Regions from separate parts of the Homo sapiens genome. Here region 1 is linked to region 2. Evidence: fine-mapped expression QTL. A gene starts in region 2. The other region holds a variant in brackets. All regions are shown on one strand. Distances are from middle to middle.

Evidence for each region. PIP is the estimated chance that this variant, and not a neighbour inherited with it, causes the effect. A credible set is the group of variants that fine-mapping cannot tell apart.
Region 1: its variant is the best candidate, but not a certain one, in a credible set for the expression of RSPO2 in coronary artery (GTEx, PIP 0.74).

The regions. Positions count from the first base shown.
Region 1 is chr8:107,551,064-107,562,531 of GRCh38, reverse strand. No RefSeq gene overlaps it. Among named protein-coding and RNA genes, the nearest start is that of ANGPT1, 59 kb to the right of the region's middle. The variant A/G (reference allele first, on the strand shown) is at 6,168.
Region 2 is chr8:108,078,922-108,090,222 of GRCh38, reverse strand. RSPO2 (R-spondin 2) reads left to right here and starts at 6,603. Exons shown (of 6, transcript NM_178565.5): 1 at 6,603-7,026; 2 at 7,416-7,678. The coding sequence starts at 7,585. RefSeq lists silencers at 7,572-7,747, 8,288-8,582 and an enhancer at 7,464-8,410.

The DNA.
Region 1 (11,468 bases), 530 kb after region 2:
CCTGTTTAAAATAAATTTCTCTTTCTGGTTTTCAAAAGAATCTCCCAGTCTTTAGTCAGAAATATAATTTAATAATTTTTAGGTTAGTTATATACACTAATAAAATGTACATCTTTCATTTAAAAATTAGTTTTTGAAGAGTTAAGAGATTGGACAACATTGCCACTGAGCACATTAGTACCTTGTTTTGTGAGTTGAGATGAAGCATTGATGCCTAAAGAAATAGTCTCTTGGTAAATTGTTCATTACTGAAGAATGGTCAAGAAGCCAGTCTCAGCATAAGTCAGGGTAATCAGCAGGCCATCTCAGCTCACCGCAACTTCCGCCTCCCAGACTCAAGCACTTCTTGTTCTTCAGCCTCCTGAGTAGCTGGGACTACAGGTGTGTGCCACCACTGACCAGTGCTAAATTTTGTATTTTTGGTGGAGATGGGGTTTCGCCATGTTGGCCAGGCTGGTCTCAAACTCCTAGCCTCAAGCCATCTGCCGGCCTCAGCCTCCCAAAGTGTTGAGATTACAGGCAAAAGCCACAATGCCTGGCCTCTGGGCTATAGTTTTCTTTTTGTATGTTAGGATCAAATCAGAAATATGTACATACGTACATATAGATGATAGATAGATAGATAGATAGATAGACAGACAGATACAGATATAGTTATGTAGATATAGAAGGCACTTGGTACATAAAATTTATAGAACCTAGTAAATGTTAAAGATAGATGCATATTGTTATTCTAAGTATTCAGATGGTAATCAAAAATTGGATAACAATTGGATACAATTTTAAGTAAAATGGTTAAAATAGCCTCTGTATCCTCTTAATCCTCTCCCAGCCAATTTCTAGCATCATTTTCCTAGAATTTTGGAAAAATAAGAGCATCATTTAGAAGTGAATAACATTTTTTATTCTAAAATGTTATAATTCTAAAGTATTAAAATACTGTTTGGTGAAACAGTATTCTAAAATGTTATATTCTAAAATGTTCTAAAATGTTAAAATACTGTTTGGTGAAACAGTATTTTGTATTCTAAAATGTTAAAATACTGTTTGGTGAAAACAAAATTTATATTGTGGAATGTAATTAGCAAGAAGCCAACTTTTATTTATATTTAGTATTTATCCAGACTAGATCATTCCATTCTTTACACAGAGAAGGGTCCAAATATTGACTCTCTTTGTTTCTCTATCAGTGAAAAAGTACTTCTTTTGCTGTGCCTTATCTCAAGCTTTTAAGTATTTTGAGAACACACATGAAACAGAATTGAACATTAGCTACACATTTGAACCATAGTAAATGCTATAGCATTATCTTACCTTTTTTCTCAGAAATGTTTGCACACTTTGTTTTCCCCTTGGCCTTTGTAAAACTCAGTAAGGTGAAATGGCAAAAGGACTATTTAAATACTAACATTGAAGATTCATTCATTCATTCATTCATTCCACAAATACTGGGTGATAGAGTAGTTGAGAAGCCACAGCCCATGTCCTGCCAGGAGAAGCTGACAGTATACAACTAAATTAATAAGTGTATTCTAGGCCGGGTGTGGTAGCTAACATCTGTAATCCCAGCAGTTTGGGAGGGCAAGGTGGGCAGATCACCTGAGGTTGGGAGTTCGAGACCAGCCTGACCAACATGGAGAAACCCTGTCTCTACTAAAAATACAAAATTAGCCGGGCATGGTGGCACATGCCTATAATCCCCGCTATTTGGGAGGCTGAGGCAGGAGAATCACTTGAACCTGGGAAGCGGAGGTTGCGGTGAGCCGAGATTGCGCCATTGCACCCCAGCCTGAACAACAAGAAACTCCATCTCAAAAAAAAAAAAAAATGTATTCTACAAATCCAGGTAGTGAAGTTAGCAACACATACTAAGATAAGAATAAAGCACAGTAAGAAGAGAATGGTCAAGTGGGAGGAAATGACTACTTTGTCTAGGGTGATTAGGGAAGACTCTCTTAAGAGACGACTTTGGAATAGAAACTTAATTGAAAGAAGCCATGTGACTATCTGGAGGAATACTTCTCAGGATATCGAAGAGGCATAGGTCTCATAGAAAAAATTTCAGTTTGACTTGTCAAGGCCAGTATGTTTAGAGCAGAGAGAGTGAGAAGGGGAAAGGAAAGACACAAGGTTTGAGTGACATGGAAAAGTCCTGTAAAAAGACAAGAAAAACAAAATTCCAGGAAACTTTAATTTCTTACTGTAATTTTCCATGTATTTCAGATCTAAGCTGCTTTCAGTGTTCCAACTTGATTTTCTGTTTGCAATATGAGAATCATTTTTTCTTGAGACTGACAACTGAATTATTTTAAAATGACCAGAAATAGTGAAAACTGCTAAACTGATCAAAATATTTTTCTATATTAAGAATGACTTATATGGATTATACATTAATCATTAAATAGGCCTCTATTGAAAAGACCACATTTAAAATTCTCATTTGTTATATCAAAAACTGTATTCCCCAATATAAAGACTGAAGTATCCTAAAATTAGGATGTATTTTAGTGTGATTATGGCTTTTCAACACACAAGACAAAAAGTATATAATTTAAACAATTATCTAAATAATTAAGGGCAAGTAATAATTTTGTTTTAAATATACAAACAATTATCTAATTAGGGAATCACAAGTTGAATACCCAACTGAGATTGCTACAGTGGTATTTTGATGATTTAAGTGTGGATGAATTGTAAACATTAGGATTAAATTTCACCTGAAAGAACCTATGTTTAAAGTCTATGGAGAAACGTACTTGACAGAGTGTATTTTGAGTTATATTAAAACCAAAGACTCATAAAAATGGTTTGAGATAGTTTGCTGAAATAAAATCATATAACAAGCATGCAACTGAAACAATTAGCTACAAGTTTCAACTCACAAACATATTTGTCAGAAATTCCCTGATCATCACCCAGGCATTGATTCATGCTTTCATTGAATATTGTTTGAATTTCTACTATGTGTTAGTCATTGTGCTGGGTTCTAAGTTTACAAAGGAGAACAAAAGAGTTTTACCCTGCACCTCTTAGGGTTTATGGGTTCCTGAGGAAATTGATGAGTGATAATTAATAAATGCTACTCTTCAACTCTCTATAGAAGAGAGAGAGTTTCTACTCTAAGGATATGAAGTTTAAAAGGATCATCTGGTCTCATTTTCCACCCTTTGTATAAAAGTTAACAAAGTGCCTCTCTGACATATTTTATCTGTTGAGAAAACAGATTGAGAGTTGAGTTATAAGGGAAGAATGACTTGAAGAACGAGTGGTTGATATTACCATGAGACTCAATTGCTTCTCTTTTTGTTAACAGTTCAAGAATGGAAGAGAGAGCTTAACCATTGGTTCAATGACCAGCTGTGTGATTTCCTAAACAGTATTCACAGGCTAGTTGACTTCATTCAGGATAGAGGTGTTTCCAAGGACAGTGTCAAGGAAGAAGTTTTGAAGCAATGTATCATAGATGTAATGGAGAAAAAAGAAAGCAGTGATTAATAGAGTAGAAAGTAGAAAGATCTGTGATTTGGAGTCTAAGGAAATTGGAGAAATTTGTGGGAAGAGTAGAAAGCTGTGGTTCCACAGTACACTGAAGGAATTTTTAATTTCAGAAGTGGAAGATTTCTGGGTAGATACATGAGAAGGATAATAAGTAAAGGAAAGGAGAAGATAACAAGTTCAATATTATTGTGTTCAGGGTTAGAGGAACACAATAATAGTTGATATTACTTGGAGTAGCAGGAAATAAATGATTTGAAGCAGGTGCCAAAAGTTATACTGAATTGGGAGAAGTGACCAGGAGGATGATAGGAGATAGTGTCAAGAATAGGTAAAAGAATGTTTAGCCAACTGGCAAGAAGCTTCAAGGAAACTTATTTATTTATTTATTTATTTATTTATTTATTCATTCATTCATTCATTCATTCATTTATATGAAGATAAGGAGTCATGAGCTGAATATAATTTGGAAACTCTGAACTATATGATGTGTGGGAGAAAGAACACCTACTCTTCAGAGGACCTTGAGAATTTATGGAAAGAGTCAGTGTTCAGTGAAGCCAGTCTGAAAGAAATGGTCAGTAGAGAGGCAAAAGGTATAGAGGAATTTGTTTAACTGTGGGCAAAGAAACCCATGCAATAGATGTGAGGAGTAGTAAGGCCTTTGTGGTTTGGGCCTTAAAATGGACTAAGTCCCCAATTTACTTTTATTTTAATATCACGGGAATAAAAGCAGTAAGCTTTTCAGCCTGAAATACCCAACAAATTGTCTTAATTTACTTCATTTCAAAGGTATGAATATTGAATGAATATCGTATTCTTAGTGTAGCATCTGATTTTCAAATGTATTTAGTTCAATAAAATCTGAAGTGCATTTTGCCAAGAAAATATCATCTGAGATTTTAGCCATGTTTATTTTAGGAGAAATATAATCCTCATGTTTATGATTCATCTATACTTAAAATATTGCTGAGAGAAACCCATAGTACATCCAAGATAGTAATTGTCATTCATGTATCATTTTTAAAATTTTCTTTCAGTTATGTAACTATGTTAATTAAGCCATATCTAATTTGGAAAGTTAAGAGATATGACTTCTCAATTTAGGAAATGACATAACCACATTGAATCATGAGCCTACAGAACTGCAAGGGACCTTGGGAATCACCAAATCCCTCATTATAAAATAAGAAACTGAGGAATAGAGAAGGTACCTGATATCTGCAATCACACTCAACTTAGAGAAGAACTAGAGCAAATAAATCGGGTGATATTAATTAATTCTCCACTTTGAGCACATGAACACTTAGCACAAGCTCTTAAACATAATAAGTGCCAAATGATGCTTGTTTAATGAATAAATCAATGTCATTAGGACTCCACCTCTCAGATTTATGTGCTGTAGTTTGCCATTTGGCATATTTATTCATCAATTATCCACATATGAGGGGCCCTGTGATGGGCTTTCTACCAAATTTGCCTTATCAGACACAATTACCAGCTTTGAGAAGATTTTAACTCAAAAGTAACAAAGTTAATAAAGTGTTCAAATATGAAAGAGTCTTAGATTAATATACAAAGACCTAACTGTCGTTTTGTCTGGCTATTTGTATGAGAATGTTTATGAATAAAAATGTGTACATTACATTAAATAGGTAAAATGTTTCTTTTCCTATCATGTGCCTGGAAAATGTTTATGGAAGGGAAGGATTTAAGGAGCTCTTCAATTAGACAGTACTGCCGGAGAAAACATTCTGTGGAATCACTGAGCAGTCCAAGGGAAGATCTAAGAACAGGAGACAGAAATTAAGTAAATGGAGTTGGTAAAAGGGTTTATTGCCATTAAGCAAAGTGTGGTGAGGGACTGCCAGGGAACGACAGTGTGAAAATGAGCTGATGGACACCCGAGTAGCATACATTGTGTAGTAATGTAGTAATGTAATGTGTAGTTTTTTTATCCTTAACTCCTCTCCAGTGCACTAAAATCTCAGAACTGACCACTATATAATTCATCCATGTAACGAAAAATCATTTGTACCCCAAAAGATATTTAAATAATTTTTTTTAAAAAAAGAAATCTAGTCTTCCAAATGCAATAGCTATTAAAACCAGCAGTTTGGCAGCCACTAAGTGAGGCAGAATAAGGTAGGAACTCCCTAGAAGTCCTGTCTGCAGAGATTTGTCACTACTTTACGTGTCTGGCAGCTTGTTAGAAAGCACTATTCTCAGGTTTTGTCTTTATCTGACCTTAGTTGGAGCTCTCGCTGTTTGTGAAGAGCCCTCTTCTCAGGATTTTGCCAAAAATAATCAACAGCAATTGTTTAACATCACAGCTGCCTAATGTGGCTTTATTTGTTGGGAGGAACAAGAACTTGACCAAAATACAAAAGAAAATACTGAGGACTGACATGATCATAAGGAACTTTGCAAAGCTAAACATAACCAAGAAATCTAGGAGGCTACACACATACTCAGGACTGTGCACATGCCCAGGAAAGGACTGAGACAATACTGTCAATCACAATATTAGTAGAGCTGTTGACAATTAAAACAAAAAAATGAAGCCTAACATTTTAATTTAACTTTTAATAAATATTCCATGTTTATTAAAAATAAAAAATTAAAAAAAAAAAAAAGAAAAAGAAAATGAGCTGATGGAAAAAGAAATGTTC[A/G]AAGAATTCCGGGAAAAGGACTAGAACTTGAACAGAAAGATTATAATGTTATAGTTCAGCACATGTGAGATTTAGCTGTGCAACCTTGGACAAGGCACTTAGTTAATTACATTAATTAATTAATTTTTTTTGGAGATGGAGTCTCGCTCTGTCGCCCAGACTGGAATGTAGTGGCGAAATCTCAGCTCACTGCAAACTCTGCTTCCAGGTTGAAGCGATTCTCTTCCCTCAGCCTCCCAAGTAGCTGGGACTACAGGCGCACGCCGCTACGCCCGGCTAATTTTATTGTATTTTTTAAAGTAGAGACAGGGTTTCACTGTTTTGCCCAGGCTGACCTGGAACTCCTGAGCTCAGGCAGTCCGTCCGCCTCAGTCTCCCAAAGTGCTGGGATTACAGGCGTGAGCCACCGCGCCTGGCTGCACTTAATTATTTTAAGCCTTGGTTTTTGAGATCATCTTATAAATGTAGATAATCATGGTACTTCCCTCATCTGTCCATAGTAAGGATTAAATTAAATAATGTTTACTCACTCTGCATACAAATCAGTTTGAACAGGGAGATGAGATGTTCAATGAGGTATTGAATTCTTCTAGGTTCTAGACTTAGTTTAGTGGTGCTACTACAATTCTTTCATAATCACAGCTCTTAACCAGAGAATTTTTATGTGTAGTAATTCTCCATATGCCTTTTTTTTCTGGGAGCATTTTTTAAATTTAAACCTCCTTTAGTCAGCTCAATGGAAACTCTCAAGAATAAAGTCATCAAGTAAGTGTGACCATTTATTATTACTATTACTATTATTATATTTTAAGTTCTAGGGTACATGTGCACAACGTGCAGGTTTGTTACATATGTATACATGTGCCATGTTGGTGTGCTGCACCCATTAACTCATCATTTACATTAGGTATTTCTCCTAATGCTATCCTTTCCCCCTTCCCCCCATTCCACGACAGGCCCCAGTGTGTGATGTTCCCCACCCTGTGTCCATGTGTTCTCATTGTTCAGTTCCCACCTATGAGTGAGAATATGCGGTGTTTGGTTTTCTGTCCTTGCGATAGTTTGCTTAGAATGATGGTTTCCAGCTTCATCCATGTCCCTACAAAGGACACGAACTCATCCTTTTTTATGGCTGCATAGTATTCCATGGTGTATATGTGCCACATTTTCTTAATCCAGTCTGTCATTGATGGACATTTGGGTTGGTTCCAAGTCTTTGCTGTTGTGAATAGTGCCACAATAAACATACGTGTGTGTGTGTCTTTATAGTAGCATGATTTATAATCCTTTGGGTATATACCCAGTAATGGGATAGCTGGGTCAAATGGTATTTCTAGTTCTAGATCCTTGAGGAATTGCCACACTGTCTTCCACAATGGCTGGACTAGTTTACACTCCCACCAACAGTGTAAAAGTGTTCTTACTTCTCCACATCCTCTCCAGCACCTGTTGTTTCCTGACTTTTAAATGATCACCATTCTAACTGGTGTGAGATGGTATGTCATTGTGGTTTTGATTTGCATTTCTCTGATGGCCAGAGATGATGAGCATTTTTTATGTGTCTGTTGGCTGCATAAATGTCTTCTTTTGAGAACACCATCTGATCTTTGACAAACCTGACAAAAACAAGAAATGGGGAAAGGATTCCCTATTTAATAAATGGTGCTGGGAAAATTGGCTAGCCGTATGTAGAAAGCAGAAATGGATCCCTTCCTTACACCTTATAAAAAATTAATTCAAGATGGATTAAAGACTTAAATGTTAGACCCAAAACCATAAAAACCTTAGAAGAAAACCTAGGCAATACCATTCAGGACATAGGCATGGGCAAGGACTTCATGTCTAAAACACCAAAAGCAATGGCAACAAAAGCCAAAGTACACAAATGGGATTTAATTAAACTAAAGAGCTTCTGCACAGCAAAAGAAACTACCATCAGAGTGATCAGGAAACCTACAGAATGGGAGAAAAATTTTGCAATCTACCCATCTGACAAAGGGCTAATATCCAGAATCTACAAAGAACTTAAACAAATTTACAAGAAAATATCAAACAACCCCATCAAACAGTGGACAAAGGATATGAACAGACACTTCTCAAAAGTGATGACCATTTTATAGTGAGACAAATCCTGGACATTTCCTGGGTGGTAAATGCTAGATTAGCAAAGTGAAGGCCAGAGTGAGGAAATTCTGATGACCTGTTTGTGATTAGTGGGAAAAGCACTAGATGTGAAGTGGGAAGACCTAAGTTTGAAGGGGAAGTCTGTTTCTGCCACCTGCTAGTTGCAAGACTTGGATACATTACCTAATATTTTTGAGCCTCCGCTTGTTGATCTATACAATAGGGACAGTAATACAAGCCTCAGAAGTTGTAGAAATTAGATGACATAATATAGCACCTAGCACAGTGCTTGATATTCAACCAAAGCTTCATATATATCCCTGATCTCCCCCTTCTTCCTATATCACTTAAGTCTCAAGATATATTAATCTTCAAGTTCTTTAGAGATGAAAAAATAAAGCCAAGAAAGGGCTAAGTGGGAAGTGGGGGGAAATTCTGAATCATTTGAGGAAAGATGAAATGGAAGCTCATCAAAAAACAATTCACAAAGGACTATCAATTATTCTTATTTCATGTTAAATGACCATAAACACTGTACATTTTGTAAACTTTATATATCTAAAGCTGTCAGATGATGGATGTATCACTTTGGAATGACCCTTAATGTCACATCATAGTTGGTAATGCTAACAGAGTCAAGCTGAATGGCGGAAAATAAACTTCTCTTCCAGCCCTATAATTTGTGAAATGATCAGGACAGAGAAATGGAGAGAAATTGAATTAATATATGACATGGTCATGGTAACATAACACAGCGAATAACCAAGTTTCATAAAGTCAAATATTAGGAAGACATTAATAGAACTATTTAGATTTCTGCAGTGCCTTCTTACAACGGACCTGAAAGTGTCCGTTCTGTTGTCTAGATGGCTTCCTTCAAATGTGGCTTCCTTTATATTGCTAACCTTATTAATGCAAACCCTTCCAGATGGCTTTGCCATGATTATTTTACTTGCCATCTCATTTCCACTGAGCAGGGTTTTGCCTCTGCTAATAAGTGCAATGAAGCATGCTGCTCCCCTCATTGTCTGATTAAATGGTGAGCAGCAGGTGATTTTTTCAATTAATTCATGTTTAAAAATACTAGCTCCTTAAACATATTTATAATAGCATCACAAACATTATTTTCAAAGTTTGGCAAGATGTTATATAGATAATTTTAAAATAATCGCTTACGAAAAATTAGATGTTTTGTTTTATGTTGTTTTTTTCTTTGAAATCATGCTTTCTTTATTATTATAAATATTTTCAACTTTTATTTTAGGTTCAGGGGGTACATGTGCAGGTTTGTTACACGGGTAAATTGTGTGTTGCTGAGGTTTGGGGTACAAATGATCTTGTTACCCAGGTAGTGAGCACAGTACCCAATGGGTGGTTTTTCAGCCCATACCCGATTCTCCTTCTTCCCCATCCAGTAGTGCCCAGAATGTGTTGTTCCCTTTATGTCCATATGTACTCAGTGTTTAGCTTCCACTTATAAGTGAGAACATGTGGTATTTGCTTTTCTGTTCCTGTGTTAATTTGCTTAGGATAATAGCTTCTGGCTGAATTTGTGTTGCTGTAAAGAACATGATTTCACTGTTTTTTTTATGGCTGCATAGTATTCCATGGTGCATAAGTACCACATTTGTTTATCATATCCATCATTGATGGCCACATAGGCTGATTCCATGTTTTTGCTATGTGAGTAGTGTTGTGAGTAGTGTGAGTAGTGTTGTGAGTAGTGTTGCGATGAACATACAAGTGCATATGTCTTTTTGGTGGAATATTTTCCTTTGTGTATATACCTAGTAATGGGACAGCTGTGTCAAATGATAGTTCTGTTTTAAATTCTTTGAGAAATATCCAAACTGGTTTCCACAGCAGGTAAACAAATTTACATTCTCACCAACTGTGTATAAGCATTCCCTTTTCTCCACAAAGTTGCCCTCAGTTATTTTTTGAGTCTTTATAATGGCCATTCTGACTAGTGTGAGATGGTATCTCATTGAGGTTTTGATTTGGATTTCTCTAATGATTCGTGATGTTGAGCATTTTTTCATATATTTGTTGGACGCTCGTATGTCTCCTTTTGAGAAGTGTGTGTTCATGTCCTTTGCCCATATTTTAATGGGGTAATTTGTTTTTTTTGCTTGTTGAATTGTTTAAGTTCCTTATAGATTCTGGATATTAGACCTTTGTCAGATACAGTTTGCTAATATAAAAAATTAGATGTTTTTGGACAATTCTCATGTCAAATCTCAAGAGAATGTACAGTTTAAGGTAGTGAGTTATTTCTTTGCACCCCAGAATCTTATTGATTTTCTTTGGTGCTTGCTGATATGATTACATTAAAAAAAAATGGAAAAGGATATATAAATATATATACATATATATTTATAGGATATTTAAATATATATACATATATATTTATAGGATATTTAAATATATATATTTAAAGGATATATATATATACACACACACACATGGGATATATATATATATACACACAGGATAAATATACTTATATATACAGCATATATACTGTATATTCTTATATATACAATGTGTGTGTACATATAAACACACACATATATGGGATATATATACAAACACACAGGATATACATACACACTTATATATACTGAGTGTGTATGTATATACACACATACACTTATATATAAGTGTGTGTATATATGTACATATACACATATATAAGTGTGTATATATACGTATATATACATATGTGCGTATATATACGTATATATACATATGTGCGTATATATACGTATATATACATATGTGCGTATATACGTATATATACATATGTGCGTATATACGTATATATACATATGTGCGTATATACGTATATATACATATGTGCGTATATACGTATATATACATATGTGTGTATATATGTATATATACATATGTGTGTACATATATACACTTATTTACACAGGTGTGCATACATACAGGAGAGATATATAAAGGATATATATGATATATATATACTTACATATTATAAATATTGTATACTAATATATATCTATATCCTGTACATGTGTCTCTCTCTATCTCTATCTCTAGTGTGTGTATACACACACACACACACACACACACACACACACAGAGCTGAGCATCCCAAATTAGAAAATCAAAAATTGGAAATGCTCCAAAATCAGAAACTTTTTGAAT
Region 2 (11,301 bases):
ACTTCACACAAAATATAATAAATGAACATGGGCTATCACATGCAACTGGCAAAACAGACGTGCTTATATTTAACAGGAAAAAACTATCAATAGTAGCACAATGGCAAAAATGCTATAATTTGTTCCAAAGCAATTAAAGGATAAATTCTACACTGGAAGAGTGCATACAATCAATATCAACAATGATTAAAAAGATTGTGAGAAATTTTAAATCTGAGAATGAATAACAGATAACATAAAAGATAACTCTAAATCAATTAGCTAATGAAAACAAGAATCAGTGCCAAAGTCAACCAAATCTATAAGCATAAATGCTTATGAAAGATTCAGAAAACTTTAAATCTATTCTACTGTAGCCCACACTGTACAGTCATAAAATCACTAGCATCCTATGGGTGTTAACATTGAAAAAATATATTGGAAAATTCCTAAATGAAAATCTAAAAATAATGGCACAAGGAAGAGCTTTTTCTTTCTCTTTTTAAAAAGTATACTTTAAGTTCTGGGATACATATGCAGAATGTGTAGGTTTGTTACATAGGTATACATGTGCCATGGTGGTTTGCTGCACCCATCAACCCATCATCTACATTAGGTATTTCTCCTAATGCTATCTCTCCCCTAGCCCCCAACCCCCTGACAGGCCCTGGTGTGTGATGTTCCCCTCCCTGTGTCCATGCCTTCTCATTGTTCAACTCCCACTTATAAGTGAGAACATGCAGTGTTTGGTTTTGGTTTTCTGTTCTTGTGTTAGTTTGCTGAGAATGATGGTTTCCAGCTTCAACCATGTCCCTGCAAAGGACATGAACTCTTCCTTTTTTATGGCTGCATAGTATTCCATGGTGTATATGTGCCACATTTTCTTTATCCAGTCTATCACTGATGGGCATTTGGGTTGGTTCCAAGTCTTTCCTGTTGTGAATAGTGCCACAATAAACATATGTGTGCATGTGTCTGTATAGTGGAATGATTTATAATTCTTTGGGTATATACCCAGTAATGAGATTGGTGAGTCAAATGGTATTTCTGGTTCTAGACCCTTGAGGAATTGCCACATTGTCTTCCACAATGGTTGAACTAATTTACACTCACACCAACAACGTAAAAGTGTTCTTATTTCTCCACATCCTCTCCAGCATCTGTTGTTTCCTGTCTTTTTAATGAACACCATTCTAACTGGCATGAGACGGTATCTCATTGTGGTTTTGATTTGCATTTCTCTAATGACCAGTGATAATGAGCTTTTTTTCATATGTTTGTTGGCTGCATAAATGTCTTCTCTTGAGAAGGGTCTGTTCATATCCTTTGCCCACTTTTTGATGGGGTTGTTTTTTTCTTGTAAATTTGTTTAAGTTCTTTGTAGATTCTGGATATTTGCCCTTAGTTAGATGGATAGATTGCAAAAATTTTCTCTCATTCTGTAGGTTGCCTGTTCACTTTGATGATAGTTTCTTTTGTTGTGCAGAAGCTTTTTAGTTTAATTGGATCCCATTTGTCAATTTTGGCTTTTGTTGCCATTGCTTTTGGTGTTTTAGTCATGAATTCTTTGCCCATGCCTATGTCCTGAATGGTATTGCCTAGGTTTTCTTCTAGGGTTTTTATAGTTTTAGGTCTTACGTTTAAGTCTTTAATTCATGTTGAGTTAATTTTTGTATAAGGTGTAAGAAAGGGGTCCAGTTTCAGTTTTCTGCCTATGGCTACCCAGTTTTCCAACACAATTTATTAAATAGGGAATCCTTTCCCCACTGCTTTTGTCAGGTTTGTCAAAGATCATATGGTTGTAGATGTGTGGCCTTATTTCTGAGGCCTCTGTTCTGTTCCATTGGTCTATATATCTGTTTTGATACCAGTACCATGCTGTTTTGGTTACTGTAGCCTTGTAGTATAGTCTGAAGTCAGGTAGCATGATGCCTCCAACTTTGTTCTTTTTGCTTAGGATTGTCTTGGCCATATGGGCTCTTTTTTTTGGTTCCATATGAAATTTAAAGTAGTTTTTTCTAATTCTGTGAAGAAAGTCAATGGTAGCTTGATGGGGATAGCATTGAATCTATAAATTACTTTGGGCACTATGGCCATTATCATGGTATTGATTCTTCCTATCCATCAGCATGGAATGTTTTTTCCATTTCTTTGTGTCCTCTCTGATTTCCTTGAGCAGTGATTTGTAGTTCTCCTTGAAGAGGTCCTTCACATCCCTTGTAAGTTGTATTCCTAGGTATTTTATTCTCTTTGTAGCAATTGTGAATGGGAGTTCTCTCATGATTTGGCTCTCTGTTTGCCTATTGTTGTATAGGAATGCTTGTGATTTTTGCACATTTATTTTGTATCCTGAGATTTTGCTGAAGTTGCTTATCAGCTTAAGGAGATTTTGGGCTGAGACAATGGGATTTTCTAAATATAGGATCATGTCATCTGGAAAGAGAGACAATTTGACTTCCTCTCTTCCTATTTGAATACCCTTTATTTATTGCCTGATTGCCCTGGCCAGAATTTCCAATACTATGTTGAATAGGAGTGGTGAGAGAGGGCATCCTTGTCTTGTGCTGGTTTTCAAAGGCAATGCTTCCAGCTTTTGCCCATTCAGTATGGTATTGGTTGTGGGTTTGTCATAAATAGCGAGGAAGAGCTTTTTCAAGTATGACACAGAGAAGCTATAAAAGATAAGACTGGCAAACTGCACTATGTAAAAGTATTTAAAATTTTTTTACATATTAATATACATCAAAAACAAAGTCAAAAGGTAAATAAGAAACTTGGAAAAATATGCAACTCAAATCACAAAAGACATTATATCAATACATGCAAATTCTACAAACAAAAACAAATGACCAAGAACACAATAGAAAAATAGGCAAATTATATCTTCAGAGAGTTCATGGAAAAGAAAATACAAATGGATGGAGCATACTAAAGACACACAAAATTTCATTTAAAAGAAAATAAATACAAATTAACACTTTACTGAGATACGACTTTTTGCCTACAAGTGTCAAAAGTCAAAAAGTGTTGGTCAGCATCTAGAGATAGGCATTTTCACACGGTGTAATATGAAAGAACCTTTGTGAAAGGCAATTTGCAGAACACACACACATATATCCAACTGTTTGATTCAACTTTTCTACTTTTAAGAATTTATAATGGAAAGGTAAAATGACACATGAAAAAGTTAATTGAAGCATTGCTTAAGATACAAAAAGTATGAAAACAATCTAAATGTATATTGATAGGGAGGCTGGCTAAATACAGCCATACGATGAAATAATATGTGACTATATAAAAAGAACAGGACAGTTCTCTATGAACTGATGCCATGGTGGCTCACGCCTGTAATCTCAGCACTTTGGGAGGCCGAGGCAGGCGGATCACGAAGTCCGGAGATCAAGACCATCCTGGCTAAAACGGTGAAACCCTGTCTCTGCTAAAAATACAAAAAGTAGCTGGGTGTGGTCGCATGTGCCTGTAATCCCAGCTATTCGTGAGGCTGAGGCAGGAGAATCGCTTGAACCAGGGAGTCGGAGGTTCCAGTGAGCCCGGATCGTACCACTGCACTCCAGCCTGGCGACAGAACAAGACTCCATCTCAAAAAAAAAAAAAAAAAACAACCCCTCAAGGTACAGATTAGTGAATACAGTATTCTACTAATTGCATAAAAGAGAGGAAGAATATATTATAAAACAGAGAAGGAAGAATGTATTATATATATGTATACGCACATATTATATGTATGCCTATATATGTGCATGTACATATATATAATACATTCTTCCTTCTTTCCTTGCTTGATAAGCAAAAAGATTATCAAGTTACTTGTTTGATAAGCACCAAACATCTTCTGAAGTATACCAAAAACCGTGAACACTTGTAAAAGAATAACTGATTGACTCTAAGGAGAACTGGATGCCTGAGAGAAGGAGGTAGGAGAGACTTTGCCCTGTTATGGTGTTTTGTAAGGATTGAATTTTGAGCTGTATGAACGAATTACAAGTCAAAAAATAAAATACAGAAGTTATCTCCTCTCTATAACATCATCCCCCACTTCTGCCCTCAGTTAACTTTCCCTATCACCAATGAGTGGTATAGAGTCAACCTCCTCAGTATATCAGTATACTTCTCTGTAAACAGAACCCAGGCACAAGTCTATTTACAAAGCCAGTTTAATGAAACCACTATATAAACTCAGTTTGAAGAAAAAGTCCATTGAGTCTCCAAGATGGAGAAACTGTGAGCTGTGAGCCTCAACAACACCACATTCTGAGTTTAGAAATGAAAGGAAGCAGAGATATGGGATTAAAGTTAATGATAGTCTAGGATCCATTAGGGTTGTATTTTTTAGTAGCAAGAACATTCCTGGGATTTTGAAGTCAGGAAAAATATTCAGTGAATGTAAAAAAAAAAAATTCTGCATTATCAACAAATTAGCCCCAAAGTGATTAAGTGTGAGACTCCAAGTACCCCAAGAACTAAGTCTGACAGAGTTTTAAGGTTCACTGGTGTCTTTTAAGAGGCAGAGATAGACCAGGAGGGAGCAAAAGAAGGAATTAAGAATTTTCCTTTCTTCCAGAGCCTATTCTTTTCTTACTAAACACATTAACCAATTTTCTACAGAAGTGGTACTGTCAAAATTCTTCCTCATGAACTGAATCTGGGGGTTCACTAAACTGAAAAGCATCTCTGGCTAAAAATGCACCAACTGTACAACACAAAAGATTAAAATTAAAATTATGGAAAGTTGTCTTTGAAGGGATAAGGGTGAAGTGGTCTGTAAATTTAACTAAGGAAGGCAGTGGCTAACCCTCTTCTTTCTACACAAAGAACCCATCACTGATGAGTTTGCCCTTACACTGGTTAGATACCATAGCAAACTTCCTAGTACAAATAGAAAATTGATTGTAAACCAGAACATGTAGAAGTGAAAGAGACCTTGGACAGACTTCCTAAAAATACTGCCAAGGAAACTGAGACCAAGAAAATTGCCCAAAGTGACGCAGGTGATTAATGGTAGCGCTACCTCTGCTTGGTCTTGTGTTTACTTTTGCCTTTAAATATTTTAAAAGACACTGATGACCACTGATCTTGAATGGATCTCAAAGCTTTGCAAGGAGGCAGGGGGGCTTACTTAGGGAAGACTTCCTTTCTCCCATAGATTTAACTCCTTTATAAGTATAATTCATTTGTTGTGTGCATATATGACTATATTTGGAAAGAAGTAGTATTTATGGTGCTGAAGAGATATTCAGCATCATATCAAGATGATCAAGAAATATCAAGTTATGCCAAACACTGGGGCCACTCCCTACACTGAAATGTTTCCAAATTCTGTGATAAAAATCAAAGGCTCAAAAGTCAAGAAACAGATCCACTGTTTCTGCAATGTGTTTTGTGAACTCTATTTGTGCCCTGTGGGCCAGTCTCAGTGATGGATTTTCTTATCTATGAAATGGGACCAATGACCTCAACTCAGATTTACTTGGGTGTTCTCAGGCATGCATCAAAGGCATACTGCTGAAATTCTTAGCACATAAATACCACTATGTAATAGTGAGTCTGTAAAATAGTTATGAATAGGCAATAATGGAATAGTTAATAAATATGAGTATTGCAATATTCTTTTTATATGATTGTCTTTTAAGTCATCAAATTTCTGAACATCTTCTGAAACTGAAGGAATAGAAAAGGGAATTTAAATAGTATAAAATGCTATCATAATAATATGGTAACTGCGGGCATATCTATAGACATTCATACTGCCACGGTTAGTGGCATAAATTCTTATCTTTTGCTTAAGGAATAAATACATTTTTTCCTACAGTAGTGAATGCAGGACAGATTTCACCAGAATGAAATTGGATGGCATCAAGTCTATTTAATGTAACACTTTGTTAAACAGAATATTTTCCCCAAACCCAAAGCACCTAAAAGTTTAATTCAGGAGACTTTGGAAATGAGAGGAGGATTAAGAATGAAAAATACTTTAGTGGGAAGTGAACTTTTTAAAATTATTTTTAAAGAATCAAGGCCCCAACTTCTTCAGCACTTCAGGCAACGGATCACAGGTTTTTGTTTTATTGGAGAAGAAACAAAGTAAATAACAGTTCTGAGGATGAACAAAAGCTGTTGGGAATACCCATTTCACTCCTCAAAGTGGGGGCGCGTTTTATGAATAATTTCAGCCGGCTAACATACCTTCCTGCAAAACACAGACAAGATGTAAATTAAAAAGTGGCAGAGTTGTGGCATATTGCAAAAGTTTAAAGGGAGTCATCAGTCCTTCAGTCAGATCTCCCTGCAGAAAGGTTGGCGCTGAGGTTGGAACTGACCCTAGAGGGCTGGAGAGGACCCCTTGGGGGTGAGCAGCCGGGTTCTGGGACCCAGCAAGGTCAGGGGGCGTCTCCCCAGCTACTCTTTATCTATCCCCCGCACTCTGGAAAGCCCGAAGAGGATTCGCTCCAAGTTAGGCGCGCTGTTGGCTGTCAACGTTCTTTAGGACCTCAGGGAAACCGGGACGTTTCTGGCTTTAGGACCCAGGAACTCCGAGGCAGCCTAGACTTAGATGCCTTGGACCACAGCACCACCTACTTATAGAAGCATCCCAAGCCTCAGCCGGTCTGCATCTCCATCGGAAAGTGCGCTTGCCACATCCCTTCGGATCACTTCGTCCTCCCGAGAGCGTTCTGCCTTCTACAGCTCGGAAAGAAAGAAATCTTAGCTGTGAAGTGACCGTGGAGAAAGCGCAGGAAGCGACACAATTGGTTAGGGAGGCAGAGAGTGTGAGCGGGCGCACCCCTTGCCTGGGGACCGCGCTCGCGGGCGGGGACGGAGCATCCCAGTGGCTGCACCCGCCGCTCCGCGCTCCTGCCTGGCGTCGCCAACCCCGCGGCGGCCGCTGGAATTCCAGAGCTGCCAGGCGCTCCCAGCCGGTCTCGGCAAACTTTTCCCCAGCCCACGTGCTAACCAAGCGGCTCGCTTCCCGAGCCCGGGATGGAGCACCGCGCCTAGGGAGGCCGCGCCGCCCGAGACGTGCGCACGGTAGGCAACCCACACCAAGGCAGCCGCAGCTGCGGCGCTTGGGTACACCGCCGTGGACTCCAAATGGCCTAAGAGCGTTCTTTTAGCCCTGCGCTCTCAGTGCCTTTAGAGTTCTTTCCTTTCCCCGGAGCGCCGGCACAACGCATTATGCCGCTGGGTCGGAGCTTAGGGCTCGGCAGAGGTTGCTAATTCACTGATTATAATCACCTTCCTCTCCAACTCGTCCGCAGCTGCCCGCTCTGGATTAAGCCGCTCCGCGGCTCGTGCTAGGCAGTGGGTTCGCTTCCTCCTTCCCTCTCTTCTTTAAATTGGGACGTGCGAAGGCGCAGCTGCCTCCCCGGGGCTCTCTCCATCCCCCACACACCCTGTTTTCGCTTCTTGTCTCTCAGGTTCGTGGCGGAGAGATGCTGATCGCGCTGAACTGACCGGTGCGGCCCGGGGGTGAGTGGCGAGTCTCCCTCTGAGTCCTCCCCAGCAGCGCGGCCGGCGCCGGCTCTTTGGGCGAACCCTCCAGTTCCTAGACTTTGAGAGGCGTCTCTCCCCCGCCCGACCGCCCAGATGCAGTTTCGCCTTTTCTCCTTTGCCCTCATCATTCTGAACTGCATGGATTACAGCCACTGCCAAGGCAACCGATGGAGACGCAGTAAGCGAGGTGGGTCCCTCTCTGCCAAAGGTGCGTGGTGGGCTTCAGGGGTGGCGTGTGGAGGCGCTCACTCACGCCCTGGCTCCGGGGGCTCAGATGGTCAGGGCTGTGCTCTCCACCCCAGCTTTTGCGGGTCCCCAGTCCCCACCTTTAGGACCCTGGAGCTCTACAAAACACTCTGTTTTCTGTACCCTGGAGGCGCGGGGAGCCGGAGCGAGACGCGCTGGGAGCTCGGCGAGCCGGGCGCCAATCGGGCGCTCAGGGCTAAGTCGTGCGGTCCGCACTCATGTTCGCCGCCCCACCTCCTCATCTAAACTTGTCTCTTTAGGACGTATTTCTTATCTGACATGCATTTTTTTTTTGTCGTCGTTGTTCTTCTCTCTGTCCTCCTAACCATCTTCCCTGTAGCTCATTTGTTTTATCTTCCCCATCCACGTGCGCCCCAAACCCGGCCTCAGATCTCTTCGGACTTGACCTAGCATAGTGTGTGTGTGGTGTGTGGGTGTACCCAAGCGTGTGTCTGTATTCCGGAGCTTGGGAGGGGTACCAAGTCGAGGGGGAGGACCTCCCTTTCCAGAAAAAGGCCAACATAGATCTCTTTTTTCTGGAAACTGCGACGAGATGGGAACTTTCTGAATTAAGCAGCAATTCCCGCGCTGGTTTTCTGGGGAGTCCTCGCCTCCAGAGGTTTGTTTTTAAAACAGGCCCCACTTCGCTCTCTCCATTTGCTTTGCAAAAGCAGCCACACCGGTGGAGGCTTCTGTTCTCAATGAAATTCACTTGCGGCTTTTTAACTGCTCCCTCCCTCTCCATCACTTGTGCGTAGCGGAGAAGGCGGGTGGAAGCCTCCAGAAAGGTTTCGGGGAACTCGCTTTCCTGCAGATTTAGTGCGTATTTCTGTCTCGGAGTCCGCTGGAGATGCAACTAATCCAACTGCATTTTAGAAGAAGGGCGGCTAGACACGATTCAATTTTCTGGGTGGATTTAAACATAAACCACTCACCACACGCACATCGAATTACCCGCGCAGGAAGGGCGCGCAGCAGCCCCTTCCCAGGGACCTGGTGAGAGCTGTCTATTTCATTCGGCACTTTGGACTTTTGCGCAATTAGAATTTGTCGCCGGGTTCATGAATGTTGACTTTTTCTCCAAGATGTAAACATCTCACTCGATCTGTGATGTGATTTGTTTATAACTCATTGTGTGTAATCTCCGCTCCTGCATCCAGATTTTGAGGAGGACTTTCCGAACCTTATTTTTTTGATGGCTTTTTAGGACATTGTTAAGCTGTTCTCACCTAGGGGCAGAGCTAGAGATTGGCCCACCTGAGCGCAGAGCTCCAAATAACTGATGGTGTGCGACTTCTGTAGTCCCTGCGCTTCAATTGTCTCTGTATCTGCGGCTTGTAAGAATAAACCTTCTCCAACTTCTCTCCCTCCCTCTCCCCCGATTTCTGACTTTTGGAAATTGTTTATTTTCAGAAATTATTTTACTTAAAAATACTAGAGAGAAATTTCTTCCCAAAGGCCATGAGAGTTTGATATTGATACTTGTCTTGAAAAAGTCCCTTTTTATCTCCTCTCTCCTCCCCTCCTGATTCCTTTCTCAATCCCAGTACTTTCTTTCGAGTATTCGGCAGAGCCAGCAATTTTTGATTACATTATGGTCAAAAGTGTTTGGAGAGGCTTTTCCTCTTTTTATAAGTCAAAGCTGCAGTCTACTTAGAAAAACTAAAGTGCTTGAAGTCTGCAAAATATAGAAATGTCTAAAATCCTTTGCCAGATCCTTATTAGATGACTTGCTAATTCAGTGATGGCTTTCTGATCCACCCTGCCTGTCCCATTGTGGTTGAGTGGGGAAGAACCAAGCATATTGTTTTAGTAGAACTTAATGCAGAGATGCTGTTTGGTGGAAAAGGACATTACAGCACTCCTGCGGCCAGAAGGGATACTGCATGCCTTCTCTGCAGTGCCATCTCTAAGAATCTGCCTATGCCTTCTTAGGTATCTGAAGCAGAACCTATTTATTTCAAAGCTTACTTTTAGCAAAATCTCTTGTAACGATTACCATCCACATCCCAAAGCACTGACAGTCTAACTCTAAATTGTGCAATAGTAACTTATGCCAAATCAACCTTTCGATTTAATAAAATTCAAATGCTTTCAAGAACGTGTAAATTGGTAAGGGTGTAAAAAAAAAATCAAACTTTTTTTCTTCTTCTCAACAGATATCCCTTTACAAATCCCAAGTTTCTGGCTAAAATAACTGTCGTCCTTAAAAGTGACCACACTATCTGTACCAACAAAGGGTGTACTGTGTTTTTAATTAAAAGTGGAACTACTTAAAGGGCTGGCCAGACAGTGTAGGGTGATAGTAGCTTTTCTACTTTGCAGGGAAGCTTAAGGATTGCATTGTGAGAGTATTGAAATGAATAGAGATCTAACTCAAGTTGTGTGAATTGTCCCTCTTCACAAACTTAAGCTGGTTTTAATTGATCTCATGTCCACTGATTGATCCTACACCAATTGTTGTGCATACCAAACAATTGGCTTTCCCCAAAAAGATTGATTTCAATTAGTTCCTCAGTGAATGCTTGACTACTGGCCAAATCATGTCAGCAGTGACAGTTGACATGTTAGGGCCTATGTGATACCAACATTTCCCTTTTTCCCCTTTGTTTTGGATAGTGTCAGTTAAATATTATTTTCCAAGAAGAAAAGTAATTGGTATTTTTTATAAAAGGTGTTGTAGTTTGGAAGATTAGTTATTTTCTTGGCTTTGTGCTACAAGTAGGTGGCAGTGGTACCAGGATTGGTTAGGCTTACCCCTGGGACCTGATTCTTTTTTTTTTTTTTCCATATTCCATCTGCGAATAATCAAACCTTCACTGTGGAGCATTCTCCGAACTCCTTTGGCATTATGTTTAGTCTGCTCTATGATCTCACATGCTCCATAATATCATTTTCTTAATGAAATAAAATTCTTGGCAGAGATTAGATAATTTAGTCAGTTAAAATCAATTGCATCCAGTTTGGAATGGAGAGCAAATATATCATTTAACGGTATATTTTATTTCAAAATATAGCCAGACGATTGAGAAAATAGTATTTTGACCGTCTCTACTTTTGGACAAAACTTCAAATGGGGGAGATCATCACGAACAATAAGACTACCTACCTACCATATTTTCTTCCCCTTATTTTGAAAAATTATAAAAATGCATTTGATAGTCACTAATGGGGCCTGGTTGCAATAATTTTAAAAAATTAATTAGGCACAAACACAATACAATACTGACAATGAATATCTTTTAGAGGGGAGACACATGCCAACATTTTGAAAAGCTGATTAATAACTCTTATTTTTCTCTCCATGTAGCATATTAAGATTTGTCTCCCTGACTCCCCCTTCAAAATAGTCATGATTGGCTATTGTTAACCCCTACTATCTGTCTTGGTCTTGAAACCACTTATGATTGATTTATATGTTAAGTGGAGTTCTTTGATTACTTTCATTTTTTGGAATGGTTGTAAGCCACATTTCAGACTGGATTACTGAAAGGTGGATAGACAAATCATAACTTTATTGTGGTCTCCTGGAATTTCTGGAGCATGGCATGTAATGACTTAATC